Linked DNA regions of Homo sapiens: region 1 is linked to region 2. Evidence: fine-mapped expression QTL. Tissue or cell type: fibroblasts. Region 2 holds a variant in brackets; the other region holds the start of a gene. All regions are shown on one strand. Distances are between the middles of the regions.

The links. PIP is the estimated chance that this variant, and not a neighbour inherited with it, causes the effect.
Region 1: NQO1 starts here. The variant in region 2 is fine-mapped to the expression of NQO1 in fibroblasts (GTEx, PIP above 0.99). The same link has a PIP of 0.9 or more in aorta, breast, esophagus mucosa, esophagus muscle, lung and sigmoid colon.

What each region holds. Positions count from the first base shown.
Region 1 is chr16:69,723,224-69,731,327 of GRCh38, reverse strand. It overlaps NQO1 (NAD(P)H quinone dehydrogenase 1), which reads left to right and starts at 4,768. Exons shown (of 6, transcript NM_000903.3): 1 at 4,768-4,895. The coding sequence starts at 4,889. It overlaps NQO1-DT (NQO1 divergent transcript), which reads right to left and starts at 4,601. Exons shown (of 2, transcript NR_186363.1): 1 at 4,153-4,601. RefSeq lists enhancers at 3,299-4,292, 4,501-4,760, 4,007-5,206, 4,293-5,285.
Region 2 is chr16:69,795,179-69,803,282 of GRCh38, reverse strand. WWP2 (WW domain containing E3 ubiquitin protein ligase 2) reads right to left here. Exons shown (of 24, transcript NM_001270454.2): 3 at 4,454-4,601; 4 at 3,988-4,109. Among named protein-coding and RNA genes, the nearest start is that of WWP2, 37 kb to the right of the region's middle. The variant C/T (reference allele first, on the strand shown) is at 4,216.

The sequences.
Region 1 (8,104 bases), 72 kb after region 2:
GCAAGGAAGCCAGTCCGAGTCCCAAAGCTGAAGAACTTGGAGTCTGATGTTGGAGGGCAGGAAACATCCAGCACAGAAGAAAGATGTAGACTGGGAGGCTAGGCCAGTCTAGCCCCACTTATTTTTTTTTTTTTTTTTGGTGAGGTGAGTCTCTGTCACCCAGGTTGGAGTACAGCGGTGTGATCTCGGCTCACCGCAACCTCTGCTTCCTGGGTTCAAGCTATTCTCCTGCCTCAGCCTCCTGAGTAGCTGGCATTATAGGCATGCACCACAACACCCAGCTAAATTTTTTTGTATTTTTAGCAGAGATGAGTTTTGCCATATTGGCCAGGCTGGTCTTGAACTCCTGACTTCAAGTGATCCACCCGTCTCGGCCTCCCAAAGTGCTGGGATTACAGGCGTGAGCCACGGCACCAGGCCTAGTCTAGTCTTTTCACGTTTTTCTGCCTGCTTTATATTCTGGCCGCACTGGCAGCTGATTAGTTGGTGCCCACCCAGATTGAGGATGGGTCCGCCCTTCCCAGTCCCACTGACTCAAATGTTCACCTCCTTTGGTAACGCCCTCACAGACACACCCAGGATCAATACTTTGCATCCTTCAATCCAATCAAGTTGACACTCATTATTAACCATCACAAGGTGTGAGCCCTGCACCCAGCAATATATTGCTTTTTATATATTTATAGAAATTCAATTGGTTCTGTTTCTCTGGAAAATCCTGATCAATATACACTCCTTCATTTTTCTTATAGCACTGAATTATGGGATAAACCAGGTTGGTTGTCCTGTAGAATGTCCCACACTGTGATTTGACTGATGTTTCCCCATGATTTTAACTTCTATCTCCTGTGTTTCCCAATCAACCCACTTGGGTTTTTGTTTTTTCTTTTTGTTTTTAGATAGGGTGTCACTGTGCTGCCTAGGTTGGAGTGCAGTGGTACAGTCACAGCTCACTATAGCGTCGACTTCCCAGGCTCAGATGATCCACCCATCTCAGCCTCCTTAGTAGCTGGATCCACAGGTGCACACCACCACACCTAGCTAATTTTTAATTTTTTTAGAGATGGCAGAGGTGGGGGGGGTTGCGGGGGGGTCTCACTATGTTGCCCAGGCTGGTCTTGAACTCCTGGGCTCAAGCGATCCCCCTGCCTTGGCCTCCCAAAGTGCTGGGATTACAGGTATAAGCCACCGCACCTGGCCCCAAACAACCCACTTTTTTTATTCTCTCAGTTTTTGCCCTTATTTAATCCCCCACTCTTACTTCAGCCTCGTTAGGAACTTGAGTCTCTGGACCCCTCTACTTTTTCTCTGCCAATAAGCCCTTTCATAATGTTCGTCATCACTCCAACCACTCTACTTTTTAAAAATGGACTTTGTTGAGGAATAACATGCATACAATAAAATGCTTGTATTTAAAATGTACTTTTCAGCGGATTTTAATAAATACATACATCTGTGTAACTACCGCCACCATCAAGTCGCTCTCTTCTTCACAGCCCCCACTCTGTCTCCTCTCATCATGCTTTCCCAACCTACATCAATCCCTCAGACTCCCCCTCTCCTGGCACGCCTGGCTGCAGACCTGCAGGAGAGAACACACACGCCGACCTGCTGGAAACCTGTACATCAGTACTGCCCTCCCGAGGACCCTCGGTCTTTGTCCAGGCAGCAGTGCTCGCCCATGCTCCACAGCAGCTTTTTCTTTTTCTTTTTTTCTTGAGATGGAGTCTCGCTCTTGTTGCCCAGGCTGGAGTGCAGTGGCACAATCTCAGCTCACTGCAACCTCTGCCTCCTGAATTCAAGCGATTCTCGTGCCTCAGCCTCCCGAGTAGCTGGGACTGGAGGCGCCCACCACCACACCCAGCTCATGTTTTTGTATTTTTAGTGGAGACGGGGTTTCACCACATTGGCCAGGCTGGTCTCCAATTCCTGAGCTCAAGTGATCCACCCGCTTCAGTCTCCCAAAGTGCTGGGATTACAGGCCTGAGCCACTGTGCCCGGCCAGTAAGTTTCTTTTTTTCTTTTGAGACAGGATCTCCCTCTGTTGCCCAGGCTGGAGTGCAGTGGCATGATCTTGGTTCACTGCCACCTCAAATGTCTGTCTTTACCACTGTGTAGTAACAAATTTGGCCAGGAGTGGTGGCACATACCTGTAACTCCAGCACTTTGGGAGATCAAAGCGGGAGGATCACATGAGCCCAGGAGTTTGAGACCAGCTTGGGCAACATAGTGAGACCCTATCTCTACCAAAAAAATAAAAAAAAATTAGCCAGGCACGGTGGCATGCACCTGTCATCTCAGCTACTCAGGAGGCTGGGGCAGGAGGATTGCTTGACTCCAGAAGGTCGAGGCTGCAGTGAACTATCATCATGCCCCTGAGCCCCTAAATCCCAAATGATAGGAGTGTCCATCTTATTCATTGTGGGCTTCTCAGACCACTCCTGATGGTTTATGCTAATGAGATGACTTGGGATGGGCCCCTATATAGTTCATGTTAACAAGATGACTGAGGATGGGAACTGGCCATGCTGGAAACCAACGACCGAACACGACACTTGAGCTTTGTGGCTTTGAGCCCCACCTCTGGATGGGTCAGGGAGACTGGTGATTGAGAAAACAATCTCACTAGAAGAGTGAGAGATAGAATAGCCAGCACACTGCGGCCTCGATCTGAACCAGCTCAGGTCTTTCCAAACACTAGTGACATGTGGCTATCTAAATTTAATTAAAGCCAGGCGCAGTGGCACATGCCTGTAATCCTAGCACTTTGGGAGGCCGAGGTGGGCAGATCACCTGAGGTCAGGAGTTTGAGACCAGCCTGGCTAACATGGTGAAACTCATCTCTACGAATAATACAAAAAGTGGCTGACTGTGGTGGTGCATGCCCGTAGTCCTAGCTACTCAGGAAGCTGAGGCACAAGAATTGCTTAAACCCAGGAGATGGAGATTGCAGTGAGCCAAGATCCTGCCACTGCACTCCAGCCTGGGCGACACAGTGAAACCCCGCCTCAAAAAATAAATTTTTAAAAAATTAATTTAATTACAATTAAAACTTCACTTCCTCAGTCCACTGGCCACTTTTTTTTTTTTAATTTCCATTTTTTTTCTTTTATTGAGTCCACCACTGCGGCCTTGAATTCCTGGGCTCAAGCGATCTTTTTGCCTCAGATCCTGAGTAGCTGGGACACAGGCGCCTGCCACCACGCCTGGCTGCTGGCCACATTTCCAGTGCTCAATAGCTACTTGAAGCTTGTGGCTACCTTACTTGGGCAGCACAGATAGGGAAAGTTCTATTGGACAGGGCTGCCTACCTAGCCCTTTTTTAAAACGTCCTTTTATACTATTTTGTCAGATGGGGTCTCACTTTGTTGCTCAGGCTTTTCTCAAACTCTTGGGCTCAAGTGATCCTCCTGCCTCAGCCTCCCAAAGTAATTTGTAAATACGTGTAAATAATATAGTCCTCTCTTGTTGCATCAAAATGAATGCAAAAATGTCACGATGGGGCCGGGCGCGGTGGCTCATGCCTGTAATCCCAGCACTTCGGGAGGCCGAGGCGGTAGGATCACCTGAGGTCGGGAGTTGGAAACCAGTTTTCTGGTGCCTCCTTAACTTTTGCACTGGAGGGACAACGGAAGGGCCCTGTGTCATCCTCACCTCCCCCATCTGTGATTCTTCTGATGGTTAATTACCACTTTAAAGCTCTAGTTCTTTTTCCTTCACCTACTGAGAGTATATCTCCTTCTTTACAGTAACTTTTACTTTATAGAGTTTTTTTTGAGACGGAGTCTCACTTCGTCACCCAGGCGGGAGTGCAGTGGCACGATCTCGACCCACTGCAACCTCCGCCTTCCGGGTTCAAGCGATTCTCCTGCCTCAGCCTCCCGAGTAGCTGGGACTTACAGGCGCCCGCCATCACGCCCAGCTAATTTTTCAGTACAGACGGGGCTTCACCAGGTTGGCCAGGCTGGTCTCGAACTCCTGACCTCAGGTGATCCACCCACCTCGGCCTCCCATATTGCTGGGATTACAGGCGTGAGCCACCGCGCCTGGTCCCGTTTTGGCTATTCTTTAATATGCTTCCCTATAACTGCTATCTCCACACCAGCCTTGCCTTAGCTCATGGGAAACAAAACCAATTAGTTCCCCCATTACCTGCCTTGAGGAGCAGGGGTGGTGCAGTGGCATGCACCCAGGGAAGTGTGTTGTATGGGCCCCCAAGTGCAGAATCTGAATCTTGCAAAGGAAGAAACAAATTCGTCTCCACGGAGCATGTCTCCCCAGGACTCTCAGCCTTCCAAATCCGCAGTCACAGTGACTCAGCAGAATCTGAGCCTAGGGCACCACAGTAATCCGCATCCGGCTCTTTTTCTGCTCCATTTCGTGCCAAGGCTAAAAGGGCATGCCCACTTGATCCCTGGACTCTCTTGGGACGACTTCCACCCTGCATCCTCTTGCACCTCAGGGCACAGTGCGCAGATGGGCTTGCCTTAGCACCCCCAGCCAGATTTTTGAGGCCTCTGTCACACACACCCCTACAATCCCCTCCCCCAGCCCCGAGAGACTTTTCTTGACTTCCACCAGTTGCTCCGGCGGGTGAGAGTGGAGAGGCCCCTCCTTCATCCCCCAGGCTCCCTCCCTTCCTGGAGCTGCAGCCTCAGCATCCTCCGCCCAGCACCCCAGGATTCAGGCGTTGGGTCCCGCCCTTGTAGGCTGTCCACCTCAAACGGGCCGGACAGGATATATAAGAGAGAATGCACCGTGCACTACACACGCGACTCCCACAAGGTTGCAGCCGGAGCCGCCCAGCTCACCGAGAGCCTAGTTCCGGCCAGGGTCGCCCCGGCAACCACGAGCCCAGCCAATCAGCGCCCCGGACTGCACCAGAGCCATGGTCGGTGAGTGCTGCAAAGGGCGGGGTGCTTGGCGGTCGTCTCTCGAGCACTGGTGCCTGTGGAGGAGGTTGTAGGGGCTTGGCCCTGAATTTTGTTCCTTGACTCAAAACCCACAAAGGGAAGAGATTAGGGACCTGGGATGAGCCTTGATCGGACTCCGGGAGAAGGAGAGCTTCTGTTTGTATCCGGTGTCGCGGATCCTTCCTCACTCCACCCCACGAACTCTAGTGGGCATTTAGGAGAAACTTGACCTTGGAAGCAGAAATTCCCTCCAAAACTGTGGTCAGAAACTGGCCGTCAGAGGCCAAATCAGGCTTACGGTCACAGCCCATACCTCTTTTGGTCTATAGTATCTAAAACACTTTGAAATAAGTTGCTAACATTAAAATGGGTGATTTCACTTAAAAATGTGGATTCCGAGCTTCTGAAGAAAATGAGAATATCTGGCGATTGGTGGACAGGAGTGGAGGAAACTGATGCCTTTGGTTTGACGGAGACCAGAACCGGCTCCAGGCTGCCAGGCACAGGTTTTGTTTTGTTTTGTTTTGTTTTGTTTTGTTTGAGACGGAGTTTTGCTCTTGTCGCCCAGGCTGTAGTGCAATGGCGCTATCTCAGCTCAGCGAAACTTCCGCCTCCCGGGTTCAAGCGATTCTCCCATCTCAGCCTCCCGAGTAGCTGGGATTACAGGAGTGCGCCATCATGCGCGGCTAATTTTTATATTTTTAGTACAGACGGGTTTCGCCAAGTTGGCCAGCGCGGTCTTGAACTCCTGACCTCAGGTGATCCACCCACCTCAGCCTCCCCAAGTGCTGAGATTACTGACGTGAGCCACCGTGCCTGGCCTTGGGAGGCATTTTCCATTGAGGCCCTTGGATTAGGCAAACCTGATCAGATCGTACTGGATCCGTTTCTAGTATTGGGTCCACTTCAGTGATAGAGCCTTCCCACTCGGCCATCGACCCTAGGGGAACTCAGAGGTCACCCCAGCTCCACCCAAGGCATAAATAACCAGCTGAGACAACTGCAGGGATTGAGAGCTGTTTCCCAAATAATCTCACTCTGAGATTGGACAGTACTAAGATTTAGAAAGCTGTTGCCTCATCTGGGGCAGAATCCTGTGTTTTGTAATTTCCTTCCCTGTGGACCTGGTCCTGCCTCTAAAAATGCGCCTGTACACAAAGAAGCCCATCTTGGTCAAAGTGAGTGGAGGAACAGACTGCCCTTGCAGTTGACAAACTGAAATTATCAGGATCTCTGAGAAAGGGACTAAGCTGGGGATTGGTAGCCCAGCATGAGTTACTGGCAGAGACAGCAGGGAATAGATTCTGACAGCTGAGAGGCTTGCCGCATACACGGTGGTTGCTGTTTCCCTTGTATTTCATTCTTCAGCGTCGAGGCACTGGCACCCTCTCCTCCAATACTAGGGCAGGAACTATTTCCTGACTTTTCAATCTTACAGAATGTTCTGTATTTACGTGTAGCTTAAACACAAAAAAGGGCGGTGGTAATGAGGTGAAAAGGGAAGACTTGGATCTTGTATAATTAGTTTTAGCTGTACCCAGCTAACCAAATCTTGAGGTTAACTAAAGCATCCAGGTTTTTTGTTTGCAACTAATAGATGCATCTGATTTGCACTCATGTTCCCTGGAGCACTCAAGTGAGAAGAGAAGGCAGAAGGAGAATGCATGAAACTGATACAAAGGCTTATCTTTATCATACTTCTTTTTTTCTTTTTGAGACAGGGTCTTGCTTTGTTGCCCAGGCTGGAGTGCAGTGGCATGATCAGGGCTCACTTCAGCCTTGACCTCCTGGGCTCAAGTGATTGTCCCATCTTTGCCCCCGAGTAGCTGGGACTACAGGTGTGTGCCACCACACCCAGCTAATTTTTTTTGGTCAGAGCAGAAGAACTTGAAACCCAGCTAATTAAAAAAAAAAAAAATTTTGGCTGGGAGTGGTGGCTCATTCCTGTAATCCCAGCACTTTTGGGAGGCTGAGGCGGGAGGACTGCTTGAGGCCAGGAGTTCAAGACCAAGATTCAGCTCAAATGGCAAGCTCCTCTGAGGGCCTTTCCGAATGGGCCAGCCCTGAGGTCCTGAAGTTTTCCTCTGTTGAACTTTTTGAGATGGAGTCTCACTCACTCTGTTGCCCAGGCTGTAGTGCAGTGGCGTGATCTTGGCTCATTGCAATCTCCACTTCCCAGGTTCAAACGATTCTTGTGCTGCAGCCTCCCAAGTAGCTGGGATTACAGGCGCCCACCACCACGCCCAGCTAATTGTGTATTTTTAGTAGAGACGGGGTTTCACCATGTTGGCCAGGCTGGTCTCTAGCTCCTGACCTCAAGTAATCCACCCGCCTCGGTCTCCCAAAGTGCTACGATTACAGGCATGAGCCACCACACCCAGCCTTCTGTTGAACTTTGTCCCTTACCTCTCCTAACACACTAATGCCATTGTACCCTGAAGAGGTTATCCGTGTGTGCATCTTGTGGCCTCTCTCAGGGTAAACTCTAATAGTCTAACTCCTCCCAGGTCATGTTGCTCAGCTAGTTAAGTGGCAGGAAGGGAAAATGAACCCTCCAGGGCCCAGAAAACTTTTAAATTGCCTATTCACAAGCATCTTTTTGTTTGTTTGTTTGAGACAGAGGCTTGCTCTGTTGCGCAGGCTGGAGTGCAATGGTGCGATCTCGGCTCATTGCAACCTCCGCCTCCTGGATTCAAGCAATTCTCCTGCCTCAGCCTCCCGATTAGCTGGGATTACAGGCACCTGCCACTACACCTGGTTAATTTTTTTTTGTATTTTTAGTAGAGACGGGGTTTCACCATGTTAACCAGGCTGGTCTCTAACTCCTGACATGAGGTGATCTGCCCGCCTCAGCCTCCCAAAGTGCTGAGATTACAGGTGTGAGCCACCGCGACCCACCCACAACCTTCTTTTGATCATTTTTCTTTTGAGTTGTTTTGGGGATCTACCTATTCCAGGTACTGCACTTTGATGGTTATATTTGTTGCAAATATATTATTCCTGCTTGTGTGTTGCCTTACATGAAAAATTGTAAAGTCACAGGCCTGCTTATAGCTATTAGAGTCTGAGCTCCTTGAAAGAGCAAGAGATGGATATCCTGATTTGCTCATTTTCTGAGAAGTGCCTTGACTGTCTTACTACTTAGAAAATGCTTGTTAACATTGATGAGAAGTCAATAAAATAAAAACTGT
Region 2 (8,104 bases):
CTGAAGAATCTAGGATAAAATGTCAGGACGTCTAGAATATACTTTAAAATACTTCTTATTGAGAGGCCAGGAGATCAGAGCAAAAAAGTAAAAAATAAGAAAATAAAAATAATTCAGCCAAAAAGAAACAGGAAAAGCAAATCCATCATAATGTTAATAGTTATCAAATAGGAAAAAAAAAGGCTTTTTTTTTTTACAAGTAATATCCAATATATGCCAAGGTACAATACAAACCAGAAATTTCAGCCACTGCTGATGGGAAGGTAAATTGTACAGGTCTCATAAGTATTTATTTGAAATGCTTGGGACTGGAAGTGTTTTGGATTTCAGATTTTTTCAGATTTTGGTATATTTGCACATACATAATAAGATATCTTGGGCCAGATGCGGTGGTTTATGCCTGTAATCCCAGCACTTTGGAAGGCCAAGGTGGGCAGATCACTTGAGGTCAGGAGTTCGAGACCAGCCTGGCCAACATGGTGAAACTCCCGTCTCTACTAAAAATAAAAAAATTAGCTGGGCATGGTGGCAGGTACCTGTCATAATCCTAGCTACTTGGAAGCTTGAGGCAGGAGAATCACTTGAACCCAGGAGACAGGGGTTGCAGTGAGCCGAGATCGCGCCACTGCACTCCAGCCTGAGCGACAGTGCGAGACCCTGTCTCAAAAAAAAAAAAAACAAAAGGAAAGAAAAATCTTCTGACGCATGTTACAACATGAATAAGCCTTGAGGACATTATGCTGACTGAAATAAGCCAGTCATAAAAGGACAAATACTGTATGGTTCCACTAACATAAGCTACCTGGAAAAGCCAAATTCACAGAAGCAGAAAGTAGAGCGGTAGCTGCCAGGTGCTGGTGCGAGGGGAGGATGGGGGAGTCATGGTTTAATGGGACAGAATTTCAGTTTTGCAAGGTGAAAAGAGTTCTGGGGATAGATGGTGGTGATGGTTGTACAAGGTGAATGTACTTAACACCACTAACCTATACACCTAAAAATTATTAACGTGATTAATTTTACATCATGTGTATTTTATCACAACTAAAAATAAATATAGGCCAGGCACGGTGGCTCATGCCTGTAATCCAGCACTTTGGGAGGCCGAGGCGGGCAGATCACGAGGTCAGGAGATCGAGACCAGCCTGGCCAACATAGTGAAACCCTGTCTCTGTTAAAAATACAAAAATTAGCCGGGCATGGTGGTGGGTGCCTGTAGTCCCAGCTACTCGGGAGGCTGAGGCAGGAGAATCGCTTGAACCCAGAAGGCAAAGGTTGTGGTGAGCCAAGATCGCGCCACTGCACTCCAGCCTGGGCAACAGGGCAAGACTCCGTCTCAGAAAAAAAAATAAATAAATAAAAATAAATATATATTGATACATTTTTAAAGAGAAAAAGGCATATTGCAAAATAATATGTTCATGTATAATCTCAATTTAGTTTCATTGATGTCATAAACATCAATATACGTCTACAAATATAAAAAAAGATCAGAACAAGGATCTGAGGGGAAAAAATTATTTAAAAGATAAAATTTAAAAGCTCAAAAATGTATACATCAAAATGTTAACAGTAGTCAGGTATAGTGGTGCACGCCTGTGGTTCCAGCTATTCCGGAGGCTGAGGCAGGAGATGGCTTGAGGCTGGGAGTTTGAGGCTACAGTGAGCTGTGATCGTGCCTATAAATAGCCACTACACTCCAGCCTGAGCAATATAGGGAGATCCCATCTCAATCTAAAAATTAATTAATTGGCCAGACGCAGTGGCTCGCATCTGTAATCCCAGCACTTTGGAAGGCCAAGGCAGGCGGATCACTTGAGCTCAGGAGTTCCAGACCATCCTGGCAACATAGTGAGACCTACTCTCTACTAAAAATATGAAATACAGCCAGGCCATGGTGGCGTGTGCCTGTAGTCCCAGCTACTAGGGGTGGGGGCTGAGGTGGGAGGATCACTTGAGCCCAGGAGCAGAGGCTACGGTGAGCCGAGATTGCACCACTGCACTCCAGCCTGAGTGACAAAGTGAGAAACCTGTCTCAAAAAATATATATATATAAAAATAAAAATTAATTAATTAAAGTAAAATTGCTTTTTTTTTTTTTTTAAGACTTGCTCTGTCACCCAGGCTGGAGTGCAGTGGCGCAATCTCGGCTCACTGGAACCTCCACCTCCCGGGTTCAAGCGATTCTTCTGTCTCAGCGTCCTGAGTAGCCGGGATTACAGGCGCCCACCACCATCCCTGGGTAATTGTTGTATTTTTCTTAGTAGAAACAGGGTTTCGCCATATTGGCCAGGCTGGTCACGAACTCCTGACCTCAGGTGATCCACCCGCCTCAGCCTCCCAAAGTACTGGGATTACAGGCGTGAGCTACCACCCCCGGCCATAAAATTGCTTTTAAAAAAACATTAAGAATAACTATCAGGCTGGGTGCAGTGGCTCACGCCTGTAATCCCAACACTTTGGGAGGATGAGGCGGGCAGATCACCTGAGGTCAGGAGTTCAAGACCAGCCTGACCAACACAGTGAAACCTCATGTCTACTAAAAATACAAAAATTAGCTGGGAATGGTGGCACATGCCTGTAATCCCAGCTACTTGGGAGGCTGAGGTGGTAGGATCGCTTGAACCTGGGAGGCGGAGGTTGCAGTGAGCCGAGATTGCACCACTACACTCCAGCCTGGGCAACAGAGTAAGACTCCATCTCAAAAAAAAAAAAAAGAAAAAACAATAACTATTACTAGGTGCTGTGCTTAGGGGCAAATTTTGTTTTCTTTCTGTAATTTACAATTTCTACAAGGACTTTTGCTAACCAAAAGCAAAAGTATATTGGCTGGGCAAATGAAGAGGAAAAAAGGACCCTCATGCTGGTTGCTGCATCCTAATGTGAGGCTATCCACAAGTATATTTCCAAATATTGCAATAAATAGAATTCTCCCTGATGATCAAATTACAAAAGGCTGGCTAGGGTTTGGGAAAATAAACACCAATTCAGAAGACAAAGCAATCAGGGAGTTCTCTGCAGGATTAAAGTGGAGGCACATCTCTGGTTTTAAACAATTCCTCGGGCCAGTGTGGGTTCAGCACATCTCTATGTGCCCAGCCGAAAAGAAAAGACCAGAGGAGGCTCAAAGACCTTTCAAGTGGCCCATCGCTTAAAAGGACAGGCTTGGAGAGAAAAGAAAGACTCTTAAATCATGTAACACGCTCGCTGGGACGCAACTCTCCCCGCCCCCACCTCTCTCTTAAGCTACATCCACTTTCAGAAAATACTTTCCAGATATCAAGAGAAAAAGGAGCCTTTCTTTCCATGCCATTCATTCGCCACATATGGTACTGCTCTGAATAGAGGCCTTATGAAGGAGGGTCCAATACCACCGCCATGGGCCATGCCACTGACCACAAACAGCAATAAATAGATGAGGATTTATATGTCCGTGACGTAGAGGCACGTTGGCTAATTCAGATGGCGCGTCCATCACGTTCCAACATCCAGTAAATGTTTACTGAGTGCCGAGTAAGCACAGGGCACTATTTGTAATACTATCCCAGACACACACGTGCACACATGCACACAGGCATGCACACACACACATATACGTATACACACAGCTCCTTTGTTCTGTTTTAGGGCTGAGGCTAGAAAAGCAATGATTTAGGCTAGAGGTATTTGACAGTTTCATTCAACATATCACACATCTCCTGCAACGGGAAGAGGAGCAGAGGCAGACAGAAAGTTTCCAGTCCCTAAGGAAGGATAAAGGGCAACACACCACTGCATCACATTACTAGAGGCCCTGGACAAAGAGGGCTAAACTCTGTAGTGGAGGCAGAGAGGAGCCCTCAGCCTTCCCAAAACTCCAAAGACAGCATCCAAGGAGAACAGAGGTACTGCAGCCCCTAGTCCTGGGGGAAATTGCAATACCAGGTTGATCTGCCAGGTCCTCCCATCCCCACCCAAGAATCACGTCGGCACCCCCTTCATCATACGTACTTTTGCCCCCATTGTTCTTCAAGACGTTGGAGAGGTTGACAGATGCGGTGCCTAGCAGTTCATTTCTCAAGGTATGGCAGCTCCAGACCTTTAAATCTAAATGACTCTGTGCCGTGACATTCCTGAAAAACAAATACCTGATTCATTACATCCAAGCAGATCATTCCTATAACTTAGAAGAAAACATTTAAACTAAACTGCTGACATCTTGGGGAGGGGGAACCAAAA[C/T]AGGCAGACACCCACATATATCCTTTCCCCTCTCAAAGCTGACCCTGTAACCCTCTAGATAATAATGAACGCTCTATGAGCTCAATGGTGTAGGAACACCTAAAAAGAGTCACCTTGGGTACCATAGGTAGAAAAAGTCGGAGGTGCCACAGGGAATCTGTACCTCCCACAACCCCCTCGGAGCACCCTCTCTCTTTCCCCATCTTGCTGCGTTCAAAAAGAAGGGGCTTTCTCTTACAAAATGATGATCTCATTCCAGAGAAGCTCAGAGCTCCCAATGCGCTTCCCAGTCTTCTTGGTCTCACTGGGGAGTCCATCCACCGCCACCTCCACGTAGGAGTTAATTCGAGGTTGACGATTATGCACCTTGGGCTTTGCGGACACCACTGGGAGAGAAAGAAAGAAAAAGTCAAAGATGAGTCCCAGGGCTCCCAGATGCCCCCCTGTGGCAGATGTTCCGGCTCTTTTTAGTTATTGCTTTAAAAAATAAATCAATACATTTTGTTTTGTCTTGATTCTAAAAACTTTTTAAAGAAATGTGAGTACACACACCAAAAAAAATATGAAGTGTAAAAAAAAAAAAAAAATCCCTAACCTGAAACCACTGGGATAACTGCCAGTGATCATCATCACCAATTTATCGTTGGTAAATTGCCTTCCAGATTTTCATCTTTTATTTATTCAATTCTTTAAAAATTCTTCACCCCCATAAGTCACTCTTAAATGACTGCAATACAAGCCCATAATAGGTATATGTTAACTATTCTTTCATTGTCGAATAGACTGCTTGCAATTGTTCGCTCTGGGGAAATTACCGTGAACATATACATCTGCATGCCTTTCTTGAGTATTCCTCCAAAGGATACGAACACTTTTTAAAGTTCTTAAAACTGCCCATTCCTTTCCAAGAAAGGTAAACCCATGTAGCCTCCCATCAGTGCTACAGGAGAATATTCATTTTACCAGACATCACAGAGTGCTAAGGGATATGCTTGTTCACTTTTTGCAAATCCATGGGTTAAAAACGCATGGTGTAAAGACAACAGCTAAGGCCGGGCGTGGCGGCTCATGCCTGGAATCCCAGCACTTTGGGAGGCCAAGGTGGGAGGGCTGCTTCAGCCCAGGAGTTCAAGACCAGCCTGGGAACATAACAAAATTTATAATTTTTTTTTTTTTTCTGAGATAGAGTTTGGCTCTTGTTGCCCAGGCTGGAGTGTAATGCCACAATCTCGGCTCACTGCAACCTCTGCCTCCCAGGTTAAGCAATTCTCCTGCCTTAGCCTCCTGAGTAGCTGGGATTACAGGCGCCCGCCACCGTGCCTGGCTAATTTTTGTATTTTTAGTAGAGACAGGGTTTCACCATGTTGGCCAGGCTGGTCTCAAACTCCTGACCTCAGATGATCTGCCTACCTTGGCCTCCCAAAGTGCTGGGATTACAGGCGTGAGCCACCGCACCTGGCCAATTTATAAATTTTAACTGAAATAAATAAAGATAATATTTAAGATTTTATGAGTACTTATTAAAGACCCTCTGCCATGTGCATACATTTTCTAACTGAATCCTCACAACAAACCCATGAGGCAGGGAATATATCATCACCCCATTTTACCCAGGAGAAAACAGGCTTGAGAGGCAAGGTCACTCTCCCACTCTACATAGCCAGGGAGCTACAAGCCAGACTGTGCACCCGGCCGGTCTGATTCCACATCATGCTGCATATTATTATTGAACTTTACTTATTTGTTCTATTGCTGTTCTTCGATTACCAGCAAGGTTGAATATTTTTGCCATGTGTCGTTAGTCATCTACATTTCTTCTTCCGCTCATAGCCTTCATGTGGCAACAATTCTGATGTTCGTTTGGGACCAGCAAGCCAAAGACTCATGGAGTACAAAGCTACACAAGCATCACACCGAGGAGCTAGACAGACATCCTAGTGTATATTACCCCTGGTGGAAACGCCAGGTCGCTAGGGTAAAACACATCTAGACGTCTCCCATCCTGCCCCAAATCAGAGATACAACTGATGCTCCCTTGCCTGTAATGGCAAGTCTATCCTAGCCTGAGCTTCCCTGTTTGAGTATAAGCAAATCCCTCCCTCCCAGACTCTTCTGAAAGGTGACAGTCCTACAATGGTGTCTACAACTTGGCAAAGGCCAAATTCACCTTCAGATTTTTTATAGCAGTAACTATCTTCCTCTGGCCCCAAAGGAACAGAAGGGAGGAAGACAACAGATAAAAAATCAGCTGTGGCTAAGATTCAGAAGCGACAAGGGAACAGTACTAGGGACAAAGGTTTGTGGTACTGAGGCATGGCCCAGGGTAGAAAAATGAGGTGCAGTGATTTACACACGGACCAAGGTTAACTGAGGCCACCTGGTGGTAAGAGCATGAATCTACATGCCTTTAAAAAATAGGGACTACAAATGGTGCATTACTTAGGACGTTTGACTTTACAGGGGTGCGAAAGCGATATGCATTCAGTAAAAACTGTATTTTAAATTTTGAATTTTGGTCTTTTCGCAGAATAGTCATATGCGGTACTACTGGGCAGCGGCAGTGAGCCGCAACACCAGTCAGCCACGTGATCACAGGGGCAAACAATTGATACTCTGCCGTGTACCCCTTCACCAGATGATCTTGCCTAGCTGCGGGATATCGAAGTGTCCTGAGCACATTTAAGGTAGGCTAGGCTAAGCTATGATGCTCGGCAGATTAGGAGTATCAGATGCATTTTCAACTTGCGATATGTTCAACTTATGATGGGTTTTTCAGGACGTAACCCCACTGTAAGTTGAGAAGTATCTGCGCTCATACACATACACACTTTTTCCTGAAACTCTGAGAGTAAGCTCTAGACATTGTGCCCCTTTACTCCTAAATATTTCTGGGTGTATTTCCCAACAAACACATTTTTTAACATAACCAATAGCACAATTATCAAAATCAGGACATTTAACTTTTTATAATACTAATATTTAATTTACAGACTTTATTCGTATTTTGCCAATTGTCCTATCGATGCCCATCATCGCAAAAAAAAAAAGAAAGAAAAAAAAATTTGTTCTGGTCCAGGCCCCAATCTAGGATCATACTGGCATTTAGTACTCTTATTTTGAAGCAGGGCATGGTGGCTCACGCCTGTAATCCCAGCTCTTTGGGAGGCCGAGGCAGGCAGATCACTTGAGGCCAGGAGTTTGAGACCAGCCTGGGCAACATGGCTAAACCCTGTCTCTACCAAAAATACAAAAACTAGCTGGGCGTGGTGGGGCACAACAGTAGTCCCAGCTACTCAGGAGGCTGAGGCATGAGAACTGTTTGAACCCAGGAGGCGGAGGCTACAGTGAGCTGAGACCACACTCCAGCCTGGGTGATGGAGAGAGACTCTCACAAAAAAAAAAAAAAAAAAAAAAAAAACCTCCTATTTTTAAGTTTCCAATCTATAGAAAAATTGAAATAGAACAATAAATACTGTATACTCTTCACCAATTGTTATCATTTTGCCACATTTGCTTTCTGTTCTATGTGTCTATAGCATCACTACCCAAGAGAACTTCCATGATGACGAAAATGTTCCACATCTGTGCTGCCCAATACATTGCCATGAGACACATGTGGCTATTGACACTTGAAATATGGCTAGTGCAAATAAGGATATGATTTTTAAATGTTATATAATTGTAATTTAAGTGTAAACAGTTCTATGTGGCTACAGTGACTATTCTATTGGACACCAAAGGTTATAGATAAATGCCATCTATGTCTCTGTGTATGTGTGTGTGTGTGTGTGTGTGTGTGTGTGTGTGTATCCGCATTTTTTTTCCTAGGTAAAACCATTAAAAAGTAAGTTGTAGACCGGCTGGAGTGCAGTGGCACGATCACGGCTCA